Regions from separate parts of the Homo sapiens genome. Here regions 1, 3, 4 and 5 are each linked to region 2. The links come from fine-mapping of genetic effects on gene expression. A gene starts in region 2. Each other region holds a variant in brackets. All regions are shown on one strand. Distances are from middle to middle. Region 1 overlaps ELP1 (elongator acetyltransferase complex subunit 1). Region 2 holds the start of ELP1 (elongator acetyltransferase complex subunit 1). Region 3 overlaps ELP1 (elongator acetyltransferase complex subunit 1). Region 4 overlaps ELP1 (elongator acetyltransferase complex subunit 1). Region 5 overlaps ELP1 (elongator acetyltransferase complex subunit 1).

What was found.
Region 1: its variant is fine-mapped to the expression of ELP1 in sun-exposed skin (GTEx, PIP 0.96).
Region 3: its variant is fine-mapped to the expression of ELP1 in nasal epithelium (TOPMed, PIP 0.96).
Region 4: its variant is fine-mapped to the expression of ELP1 in thyroid (GTEx, PIP above 0.99). The same link has a PIP of 0.9 or more in aorta.
Region 5: its variant is fine-mapped to the expression of ELP1 in whole blood (INTERVAL, PIP 0.98).

What each region holds. Positions count from the first base shown.
Region 1 is chr9:108,898,585-108,903,584 of GRCh38, reverse strand. It overlaps ELP1 (elongator acetyltransferase complex subunit 1), which reads left to right. Exons shown (of 37, transcript NM_003640.5): 15 at 1-22; 16 at 643-746; 17 at 1,904-1,957; 18 at 2,055-2,160; 19 at 3,210-3,325; 20 at 3,690-3,763; 21 at 4,836-4,914. Among named protein-coding and RNA genes, the nearest start is that of ELP1, 33 kb to the left of the region's middle. The variant G/A (reference allele first, on the strand shown) is at 2,072.
Region 2 is chr9:108,931,224-108,936,439 of GRCh38, reverse strand. ELP1 (elongator acetyltransferase complex subunit 1) reads left to right here and starts at 2,316. Exons shown (of 37, transcript NM_003640.5): 1 at 2,316-2,576. It overlaps ABITRAM (actin binding transcription modulator), which reads right to left and starts at 2,040. Exons shown (of 6, transcript NM_017832.4): 1 at 1,875-2,040; 2 at 751-802; 3 at 3-132. The coding sequence starts at 1,953. RefSeq lists a silencer at 1,814-2,093 and an enhancer at 2,844-3,073.
Region 3 is chr9:108,908,949-108,913,948 of GRCh38, reverse strand. It overlaps ELP1 (elongator acetyltransferase complex subunit 1), which reads left to right. Exons shown (of 37, transcript NM_003640.5): 11 at 1,455-1,685; 12 at 2,769-2,939. Among named protein-coding and RNA genes, the nearest start is that of ELP1, 23 kb to the left of the region's middle. The variant C/G (reference allele first, on the strand shown) is at 3,092.
Region 4 is chr9:108,892,578-108,897,577 of GRCh38, reverse strand. ELP1 (elongator acetyltransferase complex subunit 1) reads left to right here. Exons shown (of 37, transcript NM_003640.5): 23 at 293-430; 24 at 540-625; 25 at 934-1,082; 26 at 3,512-3,635; 27 at 4,495-4,592. Among named protein-coding and RNA genes, the nearest start is that of ACTL7A, 33 kb to the right of the region's middle. The variant C/T (reference allele first, on the strand shown) is at 2,472.
Region 5 is chr9:108,875,547-108,880,546 of GRCh38, reverse strand. ELP1 (elongator acetyltransferase complex subunit 1) reads left to right here. Exons shown (of 37, transcript NM_003640.5): 32 at 382-495; 33 at 990-1,101; 34 at 1,797-1,924; 35 at 2,398-2,552. Among named protein-coding and RNA genes, the nearest start is that of ACTL7A, 16 kb to the right of the region's middle. The variant G/A (reference allele first, on the strand shown) is at 2,196.

The sequences.
Region 1 (5,000 bases), 33 kb after region 2:
CAGATATTTAAGTACCTTTGGGGTGAGTATCAAGGTGTTAGGAAAGCATGTTATGACTTACATAGATGCTTAGTTCTTAAGAACATGTACTTGTATCTTGTCAGTTCAATATTGATTGTCAGGTCTTTTAACTACCCTGGAAAACCCTAAGCTTTAGAGTGGAATTGGCAAGTGTATTCTACTCCTGTTTCCTCTTTTAATGAACTAACGTACTCTTAAAAAAGTGATTGATGACTATCGCAGGGACAAAAAACCAAACACCGCATGTTCTCACTCATAGGTGGGAACTGAACAGTGAGAACACTTGGACACAGGAAGGAGAACATCACACACCTGGGCCTGTCGTGGGGTGGGGGAGGGTGGAGGGATAGCATTAGGAGATATACCTAATGTAAATGACAAGTTAATGGGTGCAGCACACCAACATGGCACATGTATACATATGTAACAAACCTGCACATTGTGCACATGTACCCTAGAACTTAAAGTATAATAAAAATATATATATAAATAAATAATGCCAGCATTAGAGAAAAAAAGTGATTGAAATTGCATGTTAAGTGTTTTAGCAAATGTTGATGTTGATGGTTTTTTGCAAAGAGCGCATCAGCTATTTGTGAACTAGATCTGTGAATCTTGCAGAGTCACCTTCTCTGGCTATTAAACCATGGAAGAACTCTGGTGGATTTCCTGTTCGGTTTCCTTATCCATGCACCCAGACCGAATTGGCCATGATTGGAGAAGAGGTAGGTGAACACGGAGCAGGAAATTTACTTAAAGTAGTTACCCAGGGACTGATGGCATTAAGTAGAAAGAGCGTGGGCTTTGGAGGTGGACTTGGGTCTCCACTAAATGCCTAGACAATAGTGGGAAATGATCTCACTTTCATAAGCCACACCTTATTCATCTATAAAATGGGAAAATCAGTATCTGTCTATCAGGGTTCAGAAGACTAAATGAGATAATATATGTGATTAGCAACCTTTTATCCCTAGTTGTACAAATCATTCAAAGTTAATTTTATTTAGGAGGGGAAACAGAAATGTGATCTTGAGAATAGTTTTAGTAGATTTTTATTCAACACATACTAGAATGCCTATAATTGTGGTGGATGGTAGAATGCAGTGGCTGGAAAACAAAACCGCTTGACTAATTCCTGCTCTTCTGGAACTTGTGATCTATTAATTTCAATGTAATGATTCCCTTTGTTGGGAGTGTGATGGAAATGGACAGAGTATACTGGTAGAGAATACTGAGATGTTTGAGGGGTAATTTGAGGATGGTGGCTATGAGAATGGGAGTCCTGCATCTGGTGGTCCAGGAAGGCCTCTCGGAGGCAGTGATGTGTGTGCTGAGATGTGAAGAAAAAGAAGGCTCTGTCTCCAGGCAGAAGGAACAACAAACTCCTTGAGCTTAGCAAGAGCTCATCTTATTCAAGGGACTGGATGGAAGTATTGTGGCTGGAGCTCAGTGACAGTCATAGGAGGGAATTTGGGTTCTTTAATTGAACAAAGATTAGAAACTTCTTGTGATTTTTAATAACAGAGTAATGTGTTCTGCTTCATGGTTTGGACAGTGATTCTGGCTGCCCAGAAGAGACTTGATTGGAGAGTGACGAGACTGGAATATGGGATCAACACCGGTTGAGTGGAGTTAGTGAGGGGAAAAAGGAGATGGGTTTGAGATATGTGTAGGAGATGGAGATGTCAGGGCTCACTGATGGATTGGATGGCTTCACATTCCATTTTGCACTGGACCAGCCACGTCTTAGGTATCTATCTTTAGTCCTGATTACAGGAACTTAGGTGTGAAATCATAGGGTGGTAGAACTATGTGATAGAAAAGGTAGGTTTAACTGATTTGAGATAGAATTGCTTGTGATTTCAGTTTTATTTCTTTGCAGGAATGTGTCCTTGGTCTGACTGACAGGTGTCGCTTTTTCATCAATGACATTGAGGTATCAAGGCTTGGTTTGGTGTTGGATCCTTTTCACAGTGTTAGCTCCGAGTAATCTAGCTAGCTTTCACCCATGCCTCTCTGGCCTTCTCTTGCAGGTTGCGTCAAATATCAC[G/A]TCATTTGCAGTATATGATGAGTTTTTATTGTTGACAACCCATTCCCATACCTGCCAGTGTTTTTGCCTGAGGGATGCTTCATTTAAAAGTAAGTTTTCAATGTATAAAACAGAAATGGTCCCTTCTCCAATGTCTTTTGGAGTCTTGATGACTTTTTGAATTCTTCATTTATTTTGGCTTTTTATCAAGGAGTCCTAGGCTGGAGAAAATCTTTAGAGTTATTTTACTTAGACCCTAATCTCAACATAATATCTCAGTTAAATCATTCTGCACTTTAGTAAAGACATCCAAGGAAGGGAGTTCCTTCCTTAAGCAGCACATTCTAAAGTTAAAAACTTTTCAGGAAATTTTATTATGTAACTGATCTAATATTTTATTTGGAATTACTATGTAGATCCCCAATGTTTTACCTTCTGTGTAGTCTTTTCCCACTGTGCCCACCCTCCACTGTACATCTGCGCTCCATCTAGTGGTTTGTAGGATATTGGCTGCATTTTGTCTTCTGTTCCATGCCCTATCTATCTCTGTGTGTGTGGCGTGTATGTGTGTGTGGCGTGTATGTGTGTGTGGCGTGTATGTGTGTGTGGCGTGTATGTGTGTGTGGCGTGTATGTGTGTGTGGCGTGTATGTGTGTGTGGCGTGTATGTGTGTGTGGCGTGTATGTGTGTGTGGCGTGTATGTGTGTGTGGCGTGTATGTGTGTGTGGCGTGTATGTGTGTGTGGCGTGTATGTGTGTGTGGCGTGTATGTGTGTGTGTGTTCCTTATTCTAAAAAGCCAACTTATTTTCTTTGCTTCCAACTTGGAAATAGGGAATCTTTCTTTCATTGATATGATTATAGTACACTGATAATGCTAAGAAATAGAGAAGTTGCCCCAATTCTTAACTGTGTTTCTCCACATCATTTGAGAAGCTGTGTATGTGAATGTGCATGAGGGCTCTGTAAGAGAGAGGGCAAGTTCCAGGGATGAGCGTGTTCATCAGCAGGGCTGATAGTCTTGAGGTTCAGTGGGAGAGCTAAGGCACATGGTTGTTATTTGTTCTCTTCTATTTCACATAATGTGTGCGGTTTCAATTGCAGTTAATGGAGAGTGGCTTGTTGTGATAATTAAGGCTTATTAGTTAATGGTGTGTTTAGCATTACAGGCCGGCCTGAGCAGCAATCATGTGTCCCATGGGGAAGTTCTGCGGAAAGTGGAGAGGGGTTCACGGATTGTCACTGTTGTGCCCCAGGACACAAAGCTTGTATTACAGGTAAGCTGGTTTTTCAGACAAGATAGATAGTCTGATTGTCATTCAGCCAAGTACCAAGCATAATTCTTGCAGGTTGTATTTTAGGCTTTCTTATTCTTTGTATCGTTTATTGTAAACCTTTCCTTGATAGTTTTCTGTTAGCTTTATTCAAAGGAGTGTTGATACAGGCTGTGACCATAAGGCTCAAAGCGAAACTTTTCTTGAAAGTCAAGATAAATATAGAGAACAACAAGATTCTGCTAAAAGTGTGCTGATTTTAGAGAGTTGTGGTAATTCTCTGTGAAGAGTTAGGTAAAATGGTGTATCCTGGCTATTTAAATGTTTTCTACTTAATTAAAAATGTTACTGCTTTAATTTATTTAAGATGCCAAGGGGAAACTTAGAAGTTGTTCATCATCGAGCCCTGGTTTTAGCTCAGATTCGGAAGTGGTTGGACAAGTAAGTGCCATTGTACTGTTTGCGACTAGTTAGCTTGTGATTTATGTGTGAAGACAATAAGTATTTTATTACAATTTCGAGAACTTAAAATTATGAAAAGCCCTCATTACCTATATCATCAATCAGATTCTTAGAGGCTCTTTTTTTTTTTTTTAACTTTTTTACTTTAATGCAGTATTTTGTAGTGGAGATTCCTAGCAGAAAGAATCGTGACACTCATCATATAAAGGAGGGCTTCTCTTAACCTGAGGGAACACATGTGGGTTTTAGGTGGCCTGTGAACCCAGGGAGATTGTACACACCAAACCTTGTCTTTGTGTATTTATTCAAGTAGAAAGCCCACAGCTTTCAATAGATTTACAGCGGGGCCTATGACCCAGAAAAGCCTGAGCTACTCTTGTGAAGGAAATGACTGATTTTCTGAACCTATTTGGAGGAAACTTTGTATTGGAAAGATCTATACTAATGTTTTGTTTAAAAAGTAGACCTGAATTCCATGATGATTTTCTTTGTTTTTTTTTTGAGACAGAGTCTTGCTCTGTCACCCAGGCTGGAGTACAGTGGCGCAATCTCGGCTTACTGCAACCTCTGCCTTCTGGGTTCAAGCAATCCTCCCACTTCAGCCTCCCGCATAGCTAGGATTACAGGTGTGCACCACGCCTGGCTAATTTTTTTTTTTGTATTTTCAGTAGAGACAGGGTTTCACCATGTTGGCCAGGCTGGTCTCAAACTCCTGACCTCAAGTGTTCTGCCCACCTCGGCCTCCCAAAGTGCTAGGATTACAGGTGTGAACCACCGTGCCCGGGCTTCTGTAATGATTTTCTGTTGTATGTATGTGAAGATGTAGTTCTCAGACAGTCATGATGACTAAATTACACCTTTTAAGAAGGTAAATGAATGTGGTACCTGATTTTTTTATTCTGTAATTTCAGAGTAGAAATCCAGTGATAGCAGCTTGGCATTGGGGCTGTAATCTGATTATAACTGGTTTGTATCATAATGAAAATATGCTGGGCCCATGGAGCTCAGTTTTTGTGAATATCTTTTCTATTCTTTCTCTGTCTTCTCACAGACTTATGTTTAAAGAGGCATTTGAATGCATGAGAAAGCTGAGAATCAATCTCAATCTGATTTATGATCATAACCCTAAGGTAACTTTCTAAGCTGTCATTTACTCTAGCTTACTTTGTACTTAAACTAATATGATCTGAACGAAGATGTTTTGTCCTTTTTTTGG
Region 2 (5,216 bases):
ACCCGCTTAAATTTCCCAGAGACCTTGTTCTGAAGTCTGCTACAGTTGGTACTGATCTGATAGGAAATGCTTTTAATTGTTTTTCCACTTTGAAGAACTGGATGAGATTCTGCCAATGTGATGACACATATTCTACAAGGAGAAAAAGTTGATCCTGTGTGATTGCTTGGAATAATTTTTCCTCCCATAACTCCTATTGGAACAAGAATGTATGAACTGGTATTTGTTTAGTCAAACTATCATCTTCCCCCTTTTTCCTTTGGCTACTATTGGGGCATAACTGTAGAATAGAGAATACAATAATAAAAGAGAAAACAAGATTGAATTTCTTTCCCAGGAAAGGGAAGAGTACCAGAGGTCTTTAGGTAGGTAGCACTGGGGTAGAAGACAAAGAAATAAGGCATGCCTGTGTATACGAGATACCATACATGTCTCTACCGTAGCCCTTTCTGTGGGCTCTGAACAGTTCAGTAGTTGGGCACAGACTGGCCACTTCAAGTAGCAGCTGATGATGTGGTCCTCCATTTGGATGTTTGAGTAATCAAATTTATATGTTCAGAGTGGCCAGGCACTGGAATACTCATTCTTGCCAAACAAACTCCTATAATAATACCATTTCAACACAGTAGAAGATAATTAATGCATGTTTGTTTAGTGAACATTTGTTCAATCCAAGACCACAAGACCATACCAGGCTACAATACCAGGAAAAAAAAATTTTTGATAATTTAAAATTCCCAATTTGCTTACCGGTTAGAGTGCTGTAGTATACAGTGGTCCTCACAAAATTTTCCTTTGACATCTAGAAGAATACATGAGTCTGTTGGTGGCTGAAATCAATATTTACTACCACTATGTGGTACTTTCTTTGGGTCATATAGTTGATAATGAAGACTGGACACATACATGCTGCATGCTGATCACGGGTATCCCTTCATTACTCAAAAAGACATACCTAAAGGTTTCCTAGAAAGTATTTAAAGAGATCTGGCCCAGATAGAATAATTTATTCAACATTAAGGTAATTAACTCCTTGCTCCATCTTACTTTACACTCACTTCAAAATGAGTACACGTAGTATTTTTGCTAGGAAAATGCAATTAGCATCCCGTTCTTTATGATATATATTTTTTGTTGGTGGTTTCCAGGACTGTCCTGATGTTGGTGCAAGTCCGACATTCTGGGAAACCCCTCAGTCATGGGTGAACTAGGACAGGTTGGTCACCCTATGTTTGGCCAACAGAAAATATGCTACAATATATATTTTTTAAACTGAGTATAACCATTATCACTGAATGAAAGGAAGAAAGGAGAGTCCCCAACGATGCTCCCACCACTGGTTCTGCTTACACAAAACAGTACAAAAAGAATACCTACTTCTAAGTGGCAGATGGCGTCTCTTAAGGTAAATGTATAGATTCTTCTTCTTTCTAAATGTCTCTAATCTAACCCACCCTCTTCTCGCCATCCCTACTGCCTCTACCTTAGTTTCGATCTGATCATTTAAATAATTTTATGTATCGCTACTCCCTGTGAGAGTGAGCCCCTCAATCCCTCCAGGCACTTAAGGACTGTTGCAACCTAGCCCTCCGCCTACCTTTGGGGCCTCCGTTTAGAGTACTCATCTTACTGCGAGCAACACCCTAGAGCTCGCACTGCAATCGCCGGCCCCAGAATGCGCCCTGAAGTATTTCAGGCCACCAGGTCTTTGCAAATGCCATTCCCTGGGGCTAGACGGAACACAGAAGTCCAGTGCCTTCTGACGTGGGGACGGAGAGCCAGGGAGAGCGCGCGTGGCTTATGATCTGTCAACATAGTCTACACAGCATTAGGCCAGTGCGGCCAAGGAGGGATCAACATCACTCCGCACTTACCCGGTTTGTACCAGCGAGTGAAGTATCGATCCACGAGCGAAGGCACCACCGGCTCCGCGGCTTCGGGCTCGGTAGCCATGGCGACCTCCGGCGCCGCCACCCCCGCCCTCCGGGACCCCAGCGCTTCCTCCGCGCAGCCCGGACTGGGCGTGCTCTTCCGGCGCACAGCGCGTGTCGTGCGCACGCGCGCTGCTCTCAGGTCCGCAGGTTCCACCCCCCCCCCCGCCCCCCCCAATTACAGTGCTTTGGGGTTCGACATCAAAACAGAGATCAAATACAAAAGTTTGGGCAGATGGGCAAGAGGGCAGAGGGACAGGGGACGCGGCCAATGTAGCTCCTCTACCTCTACGGTGCCAGGCCTACAAAGAAGGCCGGCCGCCGTAAGTGACCAGAAGCGGGCCCGGCCTCGCCCCCTCCGCCTGGTGACGTCACTCCCGCGCCGCACTCCCAGTGCTGCGGCTGCCTAGTTGACGCACCCATTGAGTCGCTGGCTTCTTTGCAGCGCTTCAGCGTTTTCCCCTGGAGGGCGCCTCCATCCTTGGAGGCCTAGTGCCGTCGGAGAGAGAGCGGGAGCCGCGGACAGAGACGCGTGCGCAATTCGGAGCCGACTCTGGGTGCGGACTGTGGGAGCTGACTCTGGGTAGCCGGCTGCGCGTGGCTGGGGAGGCGAGGCCGGACGCACCTCTGTTTGGGGGTCCTCAGGTAAGCGATCCATCCAGGGTAGGGGCACGGGAGTGGACCTCTCCGCCGGCGGTGTCCGGGTGAAGGAGACCCGGAGCCTCCTCTGCCTGCTGCGGGCCGGGGACTGGAGTGCGGGCTGCACCACCTCTTTCCTAGAGCCTTAAATTCTTTTTGCAGCCTTGCCACCTGCTCCATCGGGGGCGCTGGGAGGCGCGACAGCCCAGGGATGCCTGCTGCCCCTCCAGCCGGACTTAACCCAGCCTCTTGATTGCTTGCAGGGGGTTGATAATAACGCTGAAAGCGAGAGTATTAATTCACGATGGAAGGCGGCGGTTAATAGAGGCTCGGGTGCTGTGGTGCGGGTCCTTTCTCGCGTGTGAGACTTTTTCGTGGAGGTGGTGTCCTCTGTGCTTCTCCATCTAACGTGGTGTTTTACGTGGCTTTCTCTCCCGTTAACGATGATCTCCGTGGAGACAGTGGCTGAGTAATCTTCAGATCCCAGTACTTAGCAAGTGCTCAGTCGGTGTTGGATGTAGGCCACAAACCGGATCGTAAAGAATTCAACTGTATATTGACAGCCACGGAACTAATCAATGAATAGATCCGTATGAAGAGTAAGCAAAAAGGCAGCAAAGACAGTTTTTCAGCTTGGGGACATAGAGTAGAAATGGTCTGTCCCCAAATAGTGGGAACTGTCATTTGGGGGAAGAATAGCAAGTTCTTTGCTTTCCAGGTCGCATTTGATGTGCATGTGAGACATGCTTGTGATTCTATCAGGAGGTTGAAAATGTGGGTTTAGTGGTAAGTTTGGGCTAATTCAGTCAGGGCTAGGCATTTAGGCCTAATCAGCGTATTGGTGATCTACCTGGTATATGTAATCATGCATGTGATGTCTAGCCAAGAGGTGGATAGTCGAAGGAGCAAGGGAAGAAAATGAAGCAGTTATCAGGAAATTAAGAGAGAATCCACGATTGACCTTTGGTGTGGAGGGATCTTTAGCACATTTAAGAACTGCGAAGAGTTTGAATCAGTGGAGGCAGGAAGGTTGGAGGTTGCAGATGTCCAAGAAAGAGTACTAATAGGCCTAGGTCCTGTGGCAATATGGAGGATATTCCTTTCCTAGCCTGGAAAGAAGTGGAGGGAAGTCTTCCTCCGAGAAGATAAGGGAATAAGGCTGATGGGTGTGAAATTTCAGAGAAACTAGTTTTGAGGCGTTTTTATGATGTTTAAAGATGAAAAACGCAGCCAGGCACGGTGGCTCAGGCCTGTAATCCCAGCACTTTGGGAGGCAGAGGCGGGTGGATCACTTGAGGTTAGGAGTTCAAGAACAGCCTGGCCAACATGGTGAAACCCTGTCTCTACTAAAAATACAAAAATTAACTGGGCATGGTGCCGGGCGCCTGTAATCCCAGCTACTCCGGAGGCTGAGGCAGGAGAATCGCTTGAACCCGGGAGGCAGATGTTGCGGTGAGCCGAGATCGCGCCATTGCACCCCAGCCTGGGCAATAAGAGCGAAACTCCGTCTCAAAAAACAAAAAAACCTGCATGATATGTTAGAGGTTCAAGTAATTTCTAGCAGTTCTTGAATATAATTGTCACCAAAACTTACTAAAATCATTGTCTTCCTCACTTCCATCATATATAAACTTACCTTTCTCTTATCCCACATTATATATTATATAATTCCTATGACACTTGACATTATCTTCTGTGTACTATTAGGATTGATTCATCTTTATTCTTTCTATGTCATACATATGTGGGGTGCCAAGATGAGAGAAGTCTCCTTGGATTAAAGTGACAATAAGACCGGTGTGGTCCTTGTAATTGCTACCCCTAACATAAGTTAGGGACTTACAATCATAAGCCTTAAAGGGATCTGAATATAAATAACTAGCACAGTAACATTTTTTTCCCCTACTTAGGTAATGTTATGCATTTAAGCAAGCCTGATTTTGCCAGACCAAAGTAGATGTCTTGTTTAGCACTCTTTTCTCACGTTTTATATTGTCCTGGGAAAAGCCTGGCCAGAAGAACAAAGTTACTGGAAGTAGTTATGTCAGGTCATCAGGGTCCTTGAAATGTTGGTCATCATTTTGAAGTAAATTGTTGTCATGTCCCAGTATTTTCTCTTCCCCTTTAGAACAGTAAATGCTTTTCTATCTTTGATTTCAGTTTTTTTATGAATGTATAAAACCAGTTTATAAATGAATAGACCTGGTGAATATTAAAGTCATTTCAGATTCTCTTCAACTGCCAGTATATAAAAATGGATTTTCAAATAGTGCTAATCAGTGGGATACCCTTTTGTTTTTCCTCATGATTTTATAAAGATGTCCTAATATGCAAAAATAAAATGTTTCCCCATTCATTTGTTCTTTCAACTTTCCCAAAGGAATAACTGATATTACATCTTTTTTGAAGAAAACATTCTAAAGTTGAGAATCTTGCCTCTCCTAAAAAGAACATAAAATAGGTTTCAGAATTCCTAATTTGTAGACCATAACTGTATAGAGTGGGTCAGGTTGCTGCTATAATCCATACATGGGTGTGTACTCAGAGAGGTAAGTTTTTTCTTTTCTTGGTTATTCTGATTCTGACTACCACTTCTTCACCCCCTGAATCATTTCATTTAAATAAATATGGTCATTTATCACTATT
Region 3 (5,000 bases), 22 kb after region 2:
AAGCCCCCAAGTGATTTTAAACAGCCGCAGTTGAGAACCACCGATTAACCAGTGTGTCAAGGGATGGCACTGTGATATGCTGAGCATAAAAATATTGCACAGGATGAAACCCTGTCTCTACTAAAAATGCAAAAATTAGTCCGGCGTGGTGGTGCGCGCCTGTAGTCCTAGCTACTCGGGAGGCTGAGACAAGGGAATCGCTTGAACTGGGAGGCAGAGGTTGCCGTGAGCCGAGATTGAGCCACTGCACTCCAGCATGGGTGACAGAGTGAGACTCCATCTCAAAAACATGTATATATATATATACACACACACACACATTGCACAAGAACAGCCACAACATCTGTGCTCACAGAACATCAGCATGTGGTCTAACTTCAAAGTGTTGTAATAATGCGGTTTGAGACTAGGTTATGTTTGCTGTGATCACTAAGTTAAGCATTAGTGAGCAAGGAGATTGAGAAAATCCTTAATATAAATAATATTTCTTAATATAACTATAATTCCTAATATAACTAAGGTCTTAATTTATATGTCATCTGTTTAGTAAAGGTTGGTTTTGGCATGATTAAGTCTTGCTTGCTTAATAGATGTTGGAAGGATAATTTCATGCTTATCTTCTTTGGACAGCTGAATCAGGATTAATACCCAGATAGCCTTGAACATAAGTGCTTGCAAAGCACCTGAAAGAAAATAAGCATCTTAAGCCCAATACAACACAATGATGCTAGTCTAGATCTTGGATTAAGTGTTTTAATACTTTTACTCTAATTGCCAAGTTATCTTCTTCCTAAATCTTCATGAGAAAACCCACTAAAAGAATGCTTTTTCCTGGTAGCCTTCCATTGTGATCATAAAGTTTGGAAGTAAAGTTGAAAATAAACATGTGGGCCAGGCACGGTGGCTCAGGCCTGTAATCTCAGCACTTTGGGAGGCCGAGGCAGGCGGATCACAAGGTCAGGAGATCAAGACCATCCTGGCTAACACGGTGAAACCATGTTTCTACTAAAAATACAAAAAAAAAAAATTAGCCGGGTGTGGTGGTGGGCGCCTGTAGTCCTAGCTACTCGAGAGGCTGAGGCAGGAGAATGGCATGAACCCGGGAGATGGAGCTTGCAGTGAGCCGAGATTGCGCCACTGCACTCCAGCCTGGCCGGCAGAGCGAGACTCTGTGTCAATAAAAAAAAAAAAAAAACGAAAATAAACATATGAATAAAAGTTAAAAATAGAAAAAAAACAAGAAAATAAACATATATTTCTGACCTTATTGATTCTTGATATTTTATCTGCATGGAAAGCTATTTTTTGGCAGTTATTATTGTTCTTATTTTAGAGACGAGGCTGAGCAGGAAGGGTCCTTTGAAAAAGAAAAGATTGCCCTTGAACCCCTCTGGCAAGTGGGATGAAGTCTGCTTCCCAGCCTCTAACGGCCTTCTTTTCATTTTCCCTTGCAGTTCAGCTCTGGACTGTTGGAAACTATCACTGGTATCTCAAGCAAAGTTTATCCTTCAGCACCTGTGGGAAGAGCAAGATTGTGTCTCTGATGTGGGACCCTGTGACCCCATACCGGCTGCATGTTCTCTGTCAGGGCTGGCATTACCTCGCCTATGATTGGCACTGGACGACTGACCGGAGCGTGGGAGATAATTCAAGTGACTTGTCCAATGTGGCTGTCATTGATGGAAGTAAGCTCCTGGGAAGTGTGTCCATGAGCCTGCAAGGGGTCCTGAGCCTAGGGCCTGCAGATGTGGTGGTTTGACTGGAACAGTGGGGAATCTTTATTTGTTTTGGCTGTTTGGGTTACTTGTTTTTTTATTGAATGGGATATAAGGTGGGGTATGTTCTCTCCTGAGAACCATTGTCCCCCCTCCCCCACCAGTTTCCTGTTATACTGCATCTGTGGCCTTCACACGTTTACTTGCCTGGCCTTTGAAGACACTGAAAACTTTGACTCTAGGTAGAGAGGATGACAACAGTACAGTCTTGTGGGATTGGGTGTGTTAGCTTTATCTGTTTGCCCTGACACAGATTTATAATTGACCCTTATACCACCCCACTTGTGTTGCTTTGTTTCCTGATACAAATGCTTGCTGATATATACCTCTCCAGTATGTTCAGTTCATGCATAAACGTTTGCCTAATATGAAGATTAGGTTTATATTTTATAATGAGGTAGAAGGTTTTTTTAGGGGGTGGGGTGGGAAGGGCAAGACTGAAGAGTGAAGTAGTCACCTTAATGAATAGTTTCATTGCTGATATGAAAGGGAGCACTGGCTTCTAAGATTGTAATGTGAGGTGGTATATTAATTCATATTCTGTGTAATATTCTACATAATACTGATTTTATAGTCATGTATTCTATATAGAGAACTTAATCAGATCTGCGTTATTACCAAATCCACACATAGGAAAGTGCTTTAAGGATTTTGAAAGTATTAATTCCCTTGGTTTAGTGTGGCTTGGTTGCAGGCCCAGGTTTAAAGCTAGAGGTCTGACCTCTTGGCCTTTTTGCCTTAGTCCCTGGCACCTGAAACTCCAGGTACTGAGATGGACTCCCCTAGGCCTAGAGGTGACAATAGCCAATTATGGACAGAACCCATGACATTTCCCCATCCCACACTGTTTTTAGACTTGTTCCTGAGAAAAACATTGAAAGTTATTTTTTTGTGAATTGCCATTATTGTTTAGATATACTGTGATGTTCAGATGGCTTATCTTACAAATTGAATATCCCTAGGTCTAATCCTCTTCTTTCTTTTTCACTGCAGACAGGGTGTTGGTGACAGTCTTCCGGCAGACTGTGGTTCCGCCTCCCATGTGCACCTACCAACTGCTGTTCCCACACCCTGTGAATCAAGTCACATTCTTAGCACACCCTCAAAAGAGTAATGACCTTGCTGTTCTAGATGCCAGTAACCAGATTTCTGTTTATAAATGTGGTATGTTATAAAACTTTTGCCAAGATGTTCTGAATCAAGTCCCTTCTACTCCTACATAAAAGCAAATTATAGTTTGGTGTTGCCATAGGTCTAGTGTTTCTCAAAATTTTTAAGTCTGCAGTTGATATCATTATCATTATGATATTTAATTG[C/G]CTTGGGTTTTTGTTTTTTTTTTTTTTAATCCTATACTGGTTTGTACGAGCCATTCCTTTTCCCTTACTGACTTGAAGAGTCAGTTATTTAAGAATAACATTGGACTCTGGAAATAACATAGTATGTTATACATTGTTAACATGTTTTACTCTTTTCATAGCCTTTACACATATTTTCAGTTGATCTCATCCCTCCTAGGAGCTGTGTCAGAGATGGGGTTTTCCTCTTTTGTAGATGAGGGAACACAGTGTCAGAGGTTTTGTAATTTGTTTGAACAAGAATGGACAAGGACCTCAACACAGGTGTTCTAGCTCCTAATCCACTTGTCCTGCCACAGCCCCATTGCTGTCAGTTCTTCATTACTTTCCTGATGTGCTGGAGAATCTGAAATTTGTTTTTACTTGTGAGTTCTGTGGTTATGTCATAAATTCTGCTGGCATATGGCAGTGTTAGCCTTGTTTTCAAATATCTTTTGAATTCTCAGAAAAAGCCTAGATAGTTGCCAAGAGAGAATAATCAAAATTAATTAATTTAAATGGGAAGTCCTTACTTTCATATCAGCTTTTCTGTTAAGTCAGCAGCCCACTGTGTACATGGATCCTATCTGGATGTATCACCAGTTTCTCTGATTATAGTTTCAGTGTGTAAAATGCTGTTACAGTCCTCCTTAAACTTTTCAAAATAGCTTTAAAAAAAAGTGCAAATATGTTCATTGTCAAGGCAAAAAGAATCAGATGTAAGCTTTTGTGGGACTTAACTGTATGATGCTAATGAGTTTATATGTCACTTTATGATGTATGGTATGTTTTGTTCTGCATTCACTTAAAAAATAGCTTTATATCATTCATCTATTTAAAGTGTACAATTCAATGGTTTATATGTGTGTGTATGAATATATATACATATGTATATGTATATATATGTATATTCACAGAGTTGTACAGCCATCACCACGATCAATTTTAGGACGTTTTTATCTCCTCAGAATGAAACCCTGTACCACCCTGCATTCATTTTACTTGAGAGAAAACTCCCTGTGATGAGATAGGACAGGTTGAGAGCTCCACTTTTGAAAGATTGTTCGGCATCAATATGTGGGGTTGGCCATAGGTCAGGGGCACCTGGAGGCAGAGATTCTAGTTAGGAGAAGCTGTTGTCAAGTGTCCAGGCAGGAGCTAGCAAGAGCTTGAGCCAGAGCAGTGTTCATAGAAATGGAAAGAAGAGAAAGATCATAACAAATCCATGAAGTAAAAACCCTGAGAAGTTAAAGAACCCACTGGGGAGAGTTTGGATATAAGAGAATCTGGAAAAAGAGATCTTGGACTGGAACAGGTCAGGGCTCCGTGCCCAAGTGGAAGGGAAATTAAGAACTTGGAGTCAAGTGGTAGACATTTGAGTGGTGTGGAGACAAGTTCGTTGCCAAAGTTTTCAAAGATGGTGTTTGATGCATCCTGAGTATCACTCCTTTTTCCCCCTCATTGCTTCTTGATTGTTTATTATATGCCAGGCTTTTTTCTAGTACTTGGCTTGTTGTACTAGAAAACTAGTTGTACTTTGTCTACAACTTGTTGTTCTAGGTGTAGACAAAAGATATCAATTAAATATGATCTATCAGATGGCAAGTGCTGTGGAGAAAAATTAAGCAAAATAAGGGGTAGGGAGAGCTTAAGGATAAGGGTTTACAGGGGGAAGGTGTCTTTCCTATTTAGTGTGATCCCAAAGGCCTCTCTGTGAAGGTGACATTGAAGCAGAGACCTGGTGAGAATCACAGTGGGAGCCACGCAGACATCTGGGGTAAGAGCGTCCCAAGCATTCTATGCTTGAAGGCAAAGAAGAAAAAAGAAAGAGCGTTCCAAGCAGAGTAAAAAGCAACCACCGAAGTGCCTGTTGTGTTTAGGAAATAGCCAG
Region 4 (5,000 bases), 39 kb after region 2:
TATTGGTCAGTAGTATGCCGTTGTGTAAATACACCACTATTTGCTTATTCATTCCCCTGTTGCTGGACATGTGGATTGTACTACCCTGTTTGGGGCTAATGTGACTAAAACATCTACAAACATTTGTATAAGTCTTTTGTGGACATGTTTTATTTCTCAATATTTTTATAATTCAACTCTTTTCCAAAAGTCATTTTTATTTATCATCATCAGCATGCCAGGTGTATGTTAGTAATTTGATCGCTGGGCTACATGTTCTGTTGATGACCATTCCATACACACCTGTTCTTAGAGAAGAAGATGTCACGAAGACCATGTACCCTGCACCAGTTACCAGCAGTGTCTACCTGTCCAGGGATCCTGACGGGAATAAAATAGACCTTGTCTGCGATGCTATGAGAGCAGTCATGGAGAGCATAAATCCTCATAAGTATGTATGCTGTCACCAGGTGGCATCCTTTGAAAAACCGAAGTGTGTAGTTGTCCTTGTCCAGCCTACTTACCTTTCTCATTCTGGTGTTCTTCACTTATTACCTCAGATACTGCCTATCCATACTTACATCTCATGTAAAGAAGACAACCCCAGAACTGGAAATTGTACTGCAAAAAGTACACGAGCTTCAAGGTAGAGATCCGCTCACAGAGAAAGTGCTTAAGGTGGCCGTGACTGCTACTAGTCTTCTGCAGGTGACAATCACCATGTCATTGCCACACCACAGATTTAACATGTGACTTTTTAGTTGCCATTTTAAGACCCTTGTCAGTTTTTTTCAGTGCTGCCCTCTAAAGCATATATAAAAGTATCAGAAGTATATATTCTTCTGATGTCCAGTTCTATTGAGAAAAATTTATTGTCTTTTTGGTTATGTTGTTAGGTCTGTGGATTTTTTCCCCAAATGATTGTGTTCTGTTTTGTTTTCTAAACACTGTTAGGAAATGCTCCCTCTGATCCTGATGCTGTGAGTGCTGAAGAGGCCTTGAAATATTTGCTGCATCTGGTAGATGTTAATGAATTATATGATCATTCTCTTGGCACCTATGACTTTGATTTGGTCCTCATGGTAGCTGAGAAGTCACAGAAGGTATGTGGAGTTCTTACTTTTATGCCATTTGGTTCTTGTTTATATAATGATAGTGTGAAACCCTGCTTCTGGTAGTGCAGTAGCTTTTCTGCTATCACTCTGTGAGTGCAGGGCTGGAGACAGATCTGTGAGTTTCTAGGGCCCACATTCCTAAGCCCCTGTGCTTATGAAAGTGTTTTGATTGTGAGGTTGAAGAAGTGAAGTAAAATTGCATGGCTTTTTTTTGTTTCTTTTTTTTTGAGACGGAGTCTCACTCAGTCGCCCAGGCTGGAGTGCAGTGGTGCGATCTCGGCTTACTGCAAGTTCCACCTCCCGTGTTCACGCCATTCTCCTGCCTCAGCCTCTCTAGTAGCTGGGACTACAGGTGCCCATCACCACGCCCGGCTAATTTTTTGTATTTTTAGTAGAGACAGGGTTTCACTGTGTTAGCCAGGATGGTCTCCATCTCCTGACCTCGTGATCCGCCTACCTCAGTCTCCCAAAGTGCTGGAATTACAGGTGTGGGCCACCATGTGCGGCCTAAAATTACATGGTTATTTTTAAGATGATGGGCATATGTGTGAGCTAATTTCTTCTCTTATAAAGGAAATGTAACAAGTGGTTCATGTTCCACTCCGGTTCTTTCTCACATGGCTCTTTTTTCTAGTGGAGGGTGGGCACATGGAGCACAGAAGGCTCATGGCCTCCTTTCCTATGTTGGTACATTTGCTATGATCAAAAACTTTGAACACCACTGGTATGCATATTTTTTATTTATTTTTTTGCAGCCTCAGTCTCTTCCCCATGACCTCTCCAAAAATGAAAATCGGATCCTTCATCTCTCTGCTTAAAATACTTCATGAGCTCCCATTGTTCCGAGGATATAATTCAGAAGCCATAATACTGCTTAAAAACCCTTCCTTGACCTGGCCTCTGTGTATCTTTCCATTCTCACTTCTTGGTATTGTCTTTTTTTCCTCTGCCCATGGAGGAAAGACAATGCTTTTGTCCCCCTTCCCTTGCCCCTCACCACCACATGCCTTGGTGGGCAGCATTACTTCTGCCATCCATGGGCTTTGACTGCTTCCACCCTCACCATTCCCCTGGCTAATTCTCACTAATCTAGGTTAAAGGATGCCAAGGTGGCCTCTTCCCAGTAAGCCATTCATGCTTCCCTCCAGGGACTGGGTGAGGTGACCCTCCTATATGCTTCTGTTGCACACAGTGCCTACCCCTGCAGACTACAGTGTGTCTTTATCTAGAGTGCGGTATTTATTTATTTATTTTTGAGACAAGGTCGGGCTCTATCACCCGGGCTGGAGTGCAGTGGCACCATCTTGGCTCACTGCAACCTACGCCTCCTAGGCTCAAGCAATCTCACCTCAGCTTACAGGCGTGCACCACCATGCC[C/T]GGCTAAGTTTTGAATTTTTTTTGTTGAGACGGGGTTTCGCCATGTTGCCCAGGCTGGTCTCAAACTTGTGAGCTGAAGCAATCCATCTGCCTCGGCCTCCCAGAGTGCTGGGAATGAGCACTTAATTATTTGTTGTCTTGGGTTTTCTTCCTATGTTGTTCTTACATGTATTTATCCTGTCAGCCCAGGGAAATTGCATTAAAAACAGGAAACACCTCTCCATTAGGAAGAAAAACAATTTGCTTACAGGGCATGGCATAGAGCTGGAGATGATAGTGCCAATAAATACTAGGTTGGCAGGGTCTCAGAGTTTTGTGTCCAACTCAGTATAATTTTATGTTTGTTTTAATGTGATCATTTCAGGAGAGCATGGAATGTCATGAAAACAGCACCAAGAGCAATGTCTTAGACTTTTAGGAGAAACTTAGATGCATTTGTTGAATATCTTCTAGACTGAAACCTTATTTCCCTTATTAGCCTATGAAATAAATGATACTGTGAGACTTAGTTAAGGAAGTTACTATTATTCCAAGTGTAACTTATTAATATCCGTATGTGAAAGCATTTTTGCCAAAGCTTGTTTGATGTTCAGCTGACCCTTGCACAACGTGAGTTTCAACTGTGCGAGTTTGAACTGTGTGGGTTTATCTAAATGTGGATCTCTCTCAAACACAGTTGGCCCTTTGTGTCCACGGCTTCTGCATCCACAATCAGTGTGGATCAAAAGTACAATATTTGCAGGATTTGAAACTTGCAGATACAGAGGGCCAACATTTTGTGTATCCAGGCTCCATGGGGTCAAATGTAGGACTGGGGTATGCTTGGATTTTGGTATCCTTGGGGTGTCCTGGAACCAATTCCCCATAGATACTGGGGGACAACTGTAGTTTGATTTTATATATTATATAATATGCAGTTAATATATAATACACATTTAAAAATTATGTAGCTTTGGGTTTATTGCTATATGTAAATGCTAGTTTCTATTCCTATATATGAATATCACAAGTAATAAAGTTCTCATTAATCATTTTTTTAGGATCCCAAAGAATATCTTCCATTTCTTAATACACTTAAGAAAATGGAAACTAATTATCAGCGGTTTACTATAGACAAATACTTGAAACGATATGAAAAAGCCATTGGCCACCTCAGCAAATGTGGTAAGTGTGGGGATTAGTATGTTTATCTCTACTTCAGATCTTCTTTGGAACTAGGCAAGGTATAAATTAAACTGTTAGTTTAGACAGTGACTGATTTCACTTCCCACTCCTGAAAACTCTAACAATTATGTATGCTCACGTTATTTTGTCCTGTGTTCTGAAAAGCTGAAGGTAATCACTTTTAATGAACTGGAGGAGCTCCCTAGGTAAGAACGTCAAGTAGATCCTTTTTTGGTTAAGAATGAGCACCTGTGAAGTTAACTTCAGTGTCTCAGAATCAAAATTGGTTGTCAGTTCTTCCTTCTCATGCTGTTTGCAGACATGTCAGGGAAACTCTGCTTGTCTGGAGAGAGTGATGAGGCCACCTCCCCGTGCCCTGCAAGACGCAGTTTTAATTGACAGTGATGGGGTGCCAGTTGTTCTTCCCATGCTGGAACAGTTGTGATTCTTTACTGAGGACTGATGGGGGAAAGGAAGAATCACCTGGGGTGCATGTTAAGCCTTCAGCTGCTGGCATCCTTGGAGAATCTGATTCAGGTGGTCTGGGATAGGACTGAGGCGTGCATGTGTCTAATAAGCTTCCCAGGTGATGTCTTTTCAAGGAGGCTGAGAAAACACTGGGCTGGAAAGCTGGGACTCTTAAGTAGGATGCTGATCCCAATCAGTGCTGCTCTTGCCTCAGAATCTGCAGTGGTGCTCATTAAAAATTCAAATTCCAGGATCCCATTCTTCAGATTCTCTGATTATTTAGGTCTTAAAAAGTTCCTCATTTATTTTGTTTGGTGACCATTGGTATAAATGAAGTCCATTATGCTTCCCATGTCTTAAGCCTGTCTTTGTGTGAATCTTTTTCCTGCAGGACCTGAGTACTTCCCAGAATGCTTAAACTTGATAAAAGATAAAAACTTGTATAACGAAGCTCTGAAGTTATATTCACCAAGCTCACAACAGTACCAGGTATGTGGTATGTGAAAATGAGGCTCTCCTGGTTTTGCTTTTTGCTTTAGTAGGAAAGGAGTGAGGATCCTAAGTTCATAACACCATCCTTGGCTTCAAAATTTATCTTAAAACTAATTAGCCTCAATTTGAACTTCTTATCTGGGAGAATGGTCCTGACCTGTTCTCTGATTCCTCATCTGGAATACCACAGCACCTTCCTCGTGGGGTTCCCTGCTTCTTTCCCACCCCTCCTCTAGCCCAACCTTACTGCTGTAAGTCTGATTATCCTAACAAGTACAGATCTTTCCCATATATTTCAGCATAAAGGGAAATTTTTGTTTGCTTGAAAAAGCATCCCTTTAGCTTTTTTTATATACCACACACTTTGCTTCTAAGTTAAATGTGTTATATGATCCTCTTAACAGC
Region 5 (5,000 bases), 56 kb after region 2:
TTAGCCAGAAACATTTAGGTAATTTTCTTCTTATTTTTGTTAACTGAGCTCCCCTCCCCTACCCCCCCTTTTTTTGTTTGTTTGTTTTGTTTGTTTGTTTGTTTTGCCAATCCTCCCTTGCTTTAGGTATCAAGTCTTCGTTCAGGTGATTTTACAAGTTCAGTGGTAGCGCATATTCTGGGATAATGTTGATGAACTCTAAGATCTGGAATCTCAGTCTCTAATTTGTTAATGCTTATTAAGGAAAAAGAGCTCGCTTGGAAAACCTAGTAACCTCTTTCTTTTTGCTGAATTTTAACCCTCCTTCACTGCTCCCCGCCTTTAGTTTTTTCTCTTTGCTTAAACCTCATGCTCAAACTATTTTCCATTCTGCATCTCCAGCCCAGAAAAATTATATGGCATTTCTGGACTCTCAGACAGCCACATTCAGTCGCCACAAGAAACGTTTATTGGTAGTTCGAGAGCTCAAGGAGCAAGCCCAGCAGGCAGGTCTGGGTGAGTATCTGCGTGAAGGCCATCGACGTGCGGGGGCAGTGGGGTTGGGTAACGCCACACATTGTCTAGATTGCTTGGTGATCCGCCTGCAATCTGATTACTGTGCCATGGGCAAGTGTGAGGCTTCTGTGGAGCCCCTTCAGGGCCCTCTGTGTCTGTGTTTGTGTGTTGGTGAAGGGCAGGACCAAGCATGAATGGGGAGAGCTCTGCCAGACATTCCCACCTACCCCCATTCACCCAGAGCAGCTGACCACTTCCGTGTCTAACAAAATGAGTTTCCTCATTTCCAGAAAAAAGTTCAGGAAACTACTGATTTACATTAGTAATTACTGTATTTAATATTATCTCATTCATTTTGAGATCAACTTTGCAATCATTTTCATCCATCCTTTGATATGCACCAGTTGACTCTAGTTAGTTCATTTACCGCCCTGAAAGTAAACCCACACATTAGCAGGCAGTGTTTTCATCGGCTTCTGGTTCTTCTTTTCTAGATGATGAGGTACCCCACGGGCAAGAGTCAGACCTCTTCTCTGAAACTAGCAGTGTCGTGAGTGGCAGTGAGATGAGTGGCAAATACTCCCATAGTAACTCCAGGATATCAGCGTACGTATCACATTGATTCAGCACATTGACTATATCCTGGGCATATAGGGAAAGTGGAAGCAAATAGATTGGTTTTCTACTGGGACGGTGTAGTGGGAGTGGGGAGAATATTCTTCAGCGCTGTGTGGAAGTTGTTCAGACACTTTCCCAGCATATCTGAGACATTAAACTTGGCATTGGAAGGTTTTCTTCCTCAGCCTTGTGGCTTGTGTGTTTTCCCATTCCCCACGAGGCAGTTCCTCCCCTGAATGCTCAGTTTATATTAACATCTGATTTTATTTTTTGAACAAATGTTGTGACTAAATTATAGGCACTGAAAAAATGAAAAGATAAGCTTCTTCAATTCAAAATCAGGATTGGAAGAGACCATAAATGTAAAATAAGTCATAACACTTTTACCAAATATAGTAATTTGTCAGAAATATTTATTCAGCACTCATATGGTAGGTGCAGTAGATGTTACCAAAAACTTATAAGGAGATATGAGTTATAAGAGTTTATAGTCTTGCTTGGGATGTGTAAAGCAATGCAAGATTATATATTCAAACTGAATTTTGCTTTAGGAATTTAAAATGGAGATCTGTGAAGTTGTGTGGGGTCATCAGCAACTGCAAGAAAGTAGCCAGGCAAGGTAGCACATGCCTGTAGTCCTAGCTACTCAGGAGGCTTAAAAATATCTGTGTAATTTCTAACAGGAGATCATCCAAGAATCGCCGAAAAGCGGAGCGGAAGAAGCACAGCCTCAAAGAAGGCAGTCCGCTGGAGGACCTGGCCCTCCTGGAGGCACTGAGTGAAGTGGTGCAGAACACTGAAAACCTGAAAGGTATATTCTCAGTCCTGATGATGATTCCTGACCACAAACAATAGTGAATAGGCAGTACAGACAGGCAGAGTTCAGTAGGTGATTAAGCTACCATTTTCCCAATTTGAGGAAAGATGAGAACTTTTAGCAGGAAGGGTCATGTCTGCACACATTCCTGAAGCAGCCCTTCTTAGCTGGTAACTGAGAAGCCTTCCTCCATTTGGCATCCCCCTAACTGAACTGGGAGAGATGCTTAGGCCAGGATAAAGAATTGTGGGACACTGCTTTCTGC[G/A]TAGGCCCCCCAGCGTGCTTGATTTTCTTTTTGTAGTACATGTGTTTAATTATTCCAGCATTTGGGAAGAAAAAAGATAATGTGGGAGAAAGGACCTGCAGTGGGATCATAGAAATTTTTGGCTTTGGATAGAAGCTATGTATGATTCTGTCAATGGAGCTGGGAATATAACTTACCACTCTTTCAAATTTCTTCTCTCTAGATGAAGTATACCATATTTTAAAGGTACTCTTTCTCTTTGAGTTTGATGAACAAGGAAGGGAATTACAGAAGGCCTTTGAAGATACGCTGCAGTTGATGGAAAGGTCACTTCCAGAAATTTGGACTCTTACTTACCAGCAGAATTCAGCTACCCCGGTAAGTTTTCTCAGAGACGGTGTGCATTTTTTTCATCATTTTCATGGGTTATTGTATTCACACAATCTCCAAGTCAAAAAGTTTTCCTGTTCTTAAAACATAAGATGCCATAGTTAAATTATCTTAGATTTATGTGTAAGCTGTCAGTAAGATTTGATATTTGCCTGTAGAGTGACTAGTATACCTTGGCATAGGTTAAATGGACTGTCATTTTCCTTTCTGGATGAAGTAGCTGTCATGGAGAAAATGGGAAAGTCACATGATTGCTCCTGGCCTTCAATGAGGTTGGAGTGGGGAGAGATGGGGGAAGATGGGGTCAGAGACGGCCTCTCACTTTCCTTTCAGAACTCAGGGATGGGATCAGGCTTTAAAGGGACCCCAGGCAATTGCTTTTCCTTTTGTTTTATGAAAAATTTGACTTGTCACTTCTATGTTGTTATGATGGACTTTGCGGGTTGTGTTTAAGGCTGAATCAGCTTTGTATCGCAGAATTCTAGTATATTGTCATCTGTTTATTATTTATACCTCTGTTCACTCTCTTATACTTCAAGTCTATTGTTAAGAGTTTTTATTTGGATTCAAAAAGGCTGGTGTATCAGTCAAGATCTAGAAAGGAAAACAAAAGCCTATCTATTATTTTATCACAGAATTTAATATATGGATTTGTTAAATAAGTATTAGAGGACTAAACAAGGCAAAAGGGAAATACAGAGGAAGGACATTGAGATAGTAACTGTAGGAAGCAGCTTTACCCTCTAGCTGAGGGAACAGGAGGAGTTGTTGGGAATTATTAGAATTTAGAAGCCTGGAAGTGGGGCCCTGTAGAGCTGGCTCTTGAACCTCTGAGAGGAGGGTGCCAGCCAGCTAATCCTGGCATTTCTGAGGGAGCTGGTTCCAAGCGTACAGAAGTAAATGGAAACTGGAAGGAACAGCTGCTGCTGGGGGAAAAGCCAGCCGGTCGGGCCAGGTGTGGTGGTGGCTCACGCCTGTAATCCCAGCACTTTGGGAGGCCAAGGCAGGCGGATCACCTGAAGTCAGGAGTTCGTGACTAATGTGGCCAACATGGAGAAGCCCCGTCTCTACTAAAAATACAAAATTACCCGGGCATGGTGGCGCATGCCTGTAATCCCAGCTACTCAGGAGGCTGAGGCAAGAGAATCGCTTGAACCTGGGAGACAGAGGTTGTGATGAGCCAAGATCGTGCCATTGTACTCCAACCTGGGCAGCAAGAGCGAATCTCCGTTTAAAAAAAAAAAAAAAAAAGCCAGCCAATCACGGAAGAAATCTAGAAATCTTTTGTTCATCCTCCAGCTTTGTACTCCCCCTCTGGTGTTCACTGTAGGCAGGACATGATGGGAAGCCAGCAGCAAGGAAGAATATCTTTCAGGTGCCCAGCCCCAGCACCACAAGCAGTGGATAGAAGGGTGGGTTGGAGCTGAGAGATTACAAATCAGCTCAGTGTTTAGAAACACATACGCTTATCATGTCTTGATTTCCTCATTTAGAAATGGGCATAAGACTTCTCTGTGTGCTTCAATAGAATGCTTTGAAGGTTAAATAAGAGGGTGTGTGTAAAAGCACTTTACAAACCGTTGAAATAAAAGCAACTAGGAATCAGGGCCCCAGAACTTCTTGAATTTATTATAATAGGTATTTCTTAGAAGAAATGTGATCATCATCTTCAAAACTGTAGTACTTTTGAAGATAATTGTTTTTGTTTTTTGAGACAGGGTCTCACTCTGTTGCTCAGGCTGGAGTGCAGTGATCACCGCTCACTGCAGCATCCACCGCCCCGGGCTCAGGTGATCCTCCCACCTCAGCCTCTTGAGTAGCTGGGACTACAGGCGCATGCCACAACACCTGGTTAATTTTCAAATTTTCTGTAGAGACAGGGTGTCACCAAGTTGTCCCCGCTGGTCTTGAACAACTCCTGGGCTCAAGTGGTCTGCCCACCTCACCTCTCCAAAGTGCTGGGACTATAGGCATCAGCCACCATGCCCGGCTTGAAGATAATAATTTATAATACCACTCCCATGAGTGATCTTCTCTTCTGATCACATATTCACATTAAGGTCTATTTTATTTTATTTTTTTCTTGCTCTGTCACCCAGGCTAGAGTGCAGTGACAGTATGATCAATCATGGCTTGGTGCAGCCTCGAATGCCTGGGCTAAAGCAGTCCTCCCACCGCAGTCTCCTGAGTAATTGGGACCACAGGTGCACACCACCATGCCCAGCTAATTTTAAAATTTTTTCCTAGACATGGGGAGAGGGAGTCTTGCTGTGTTGCCCAAGCTGGTCTTGAACTCCTGGCCTCAAGTGATCCTCCTGCCTTGGCCTCCCAAAGTGCTGAGATTACAGGTGTAAGCCACCATGCCTCCCACATTAAGTTCTAAGACATCAATTTTATGATTGTGGTTTTGATTGGTGAAGTATGGTTGTGGTATGT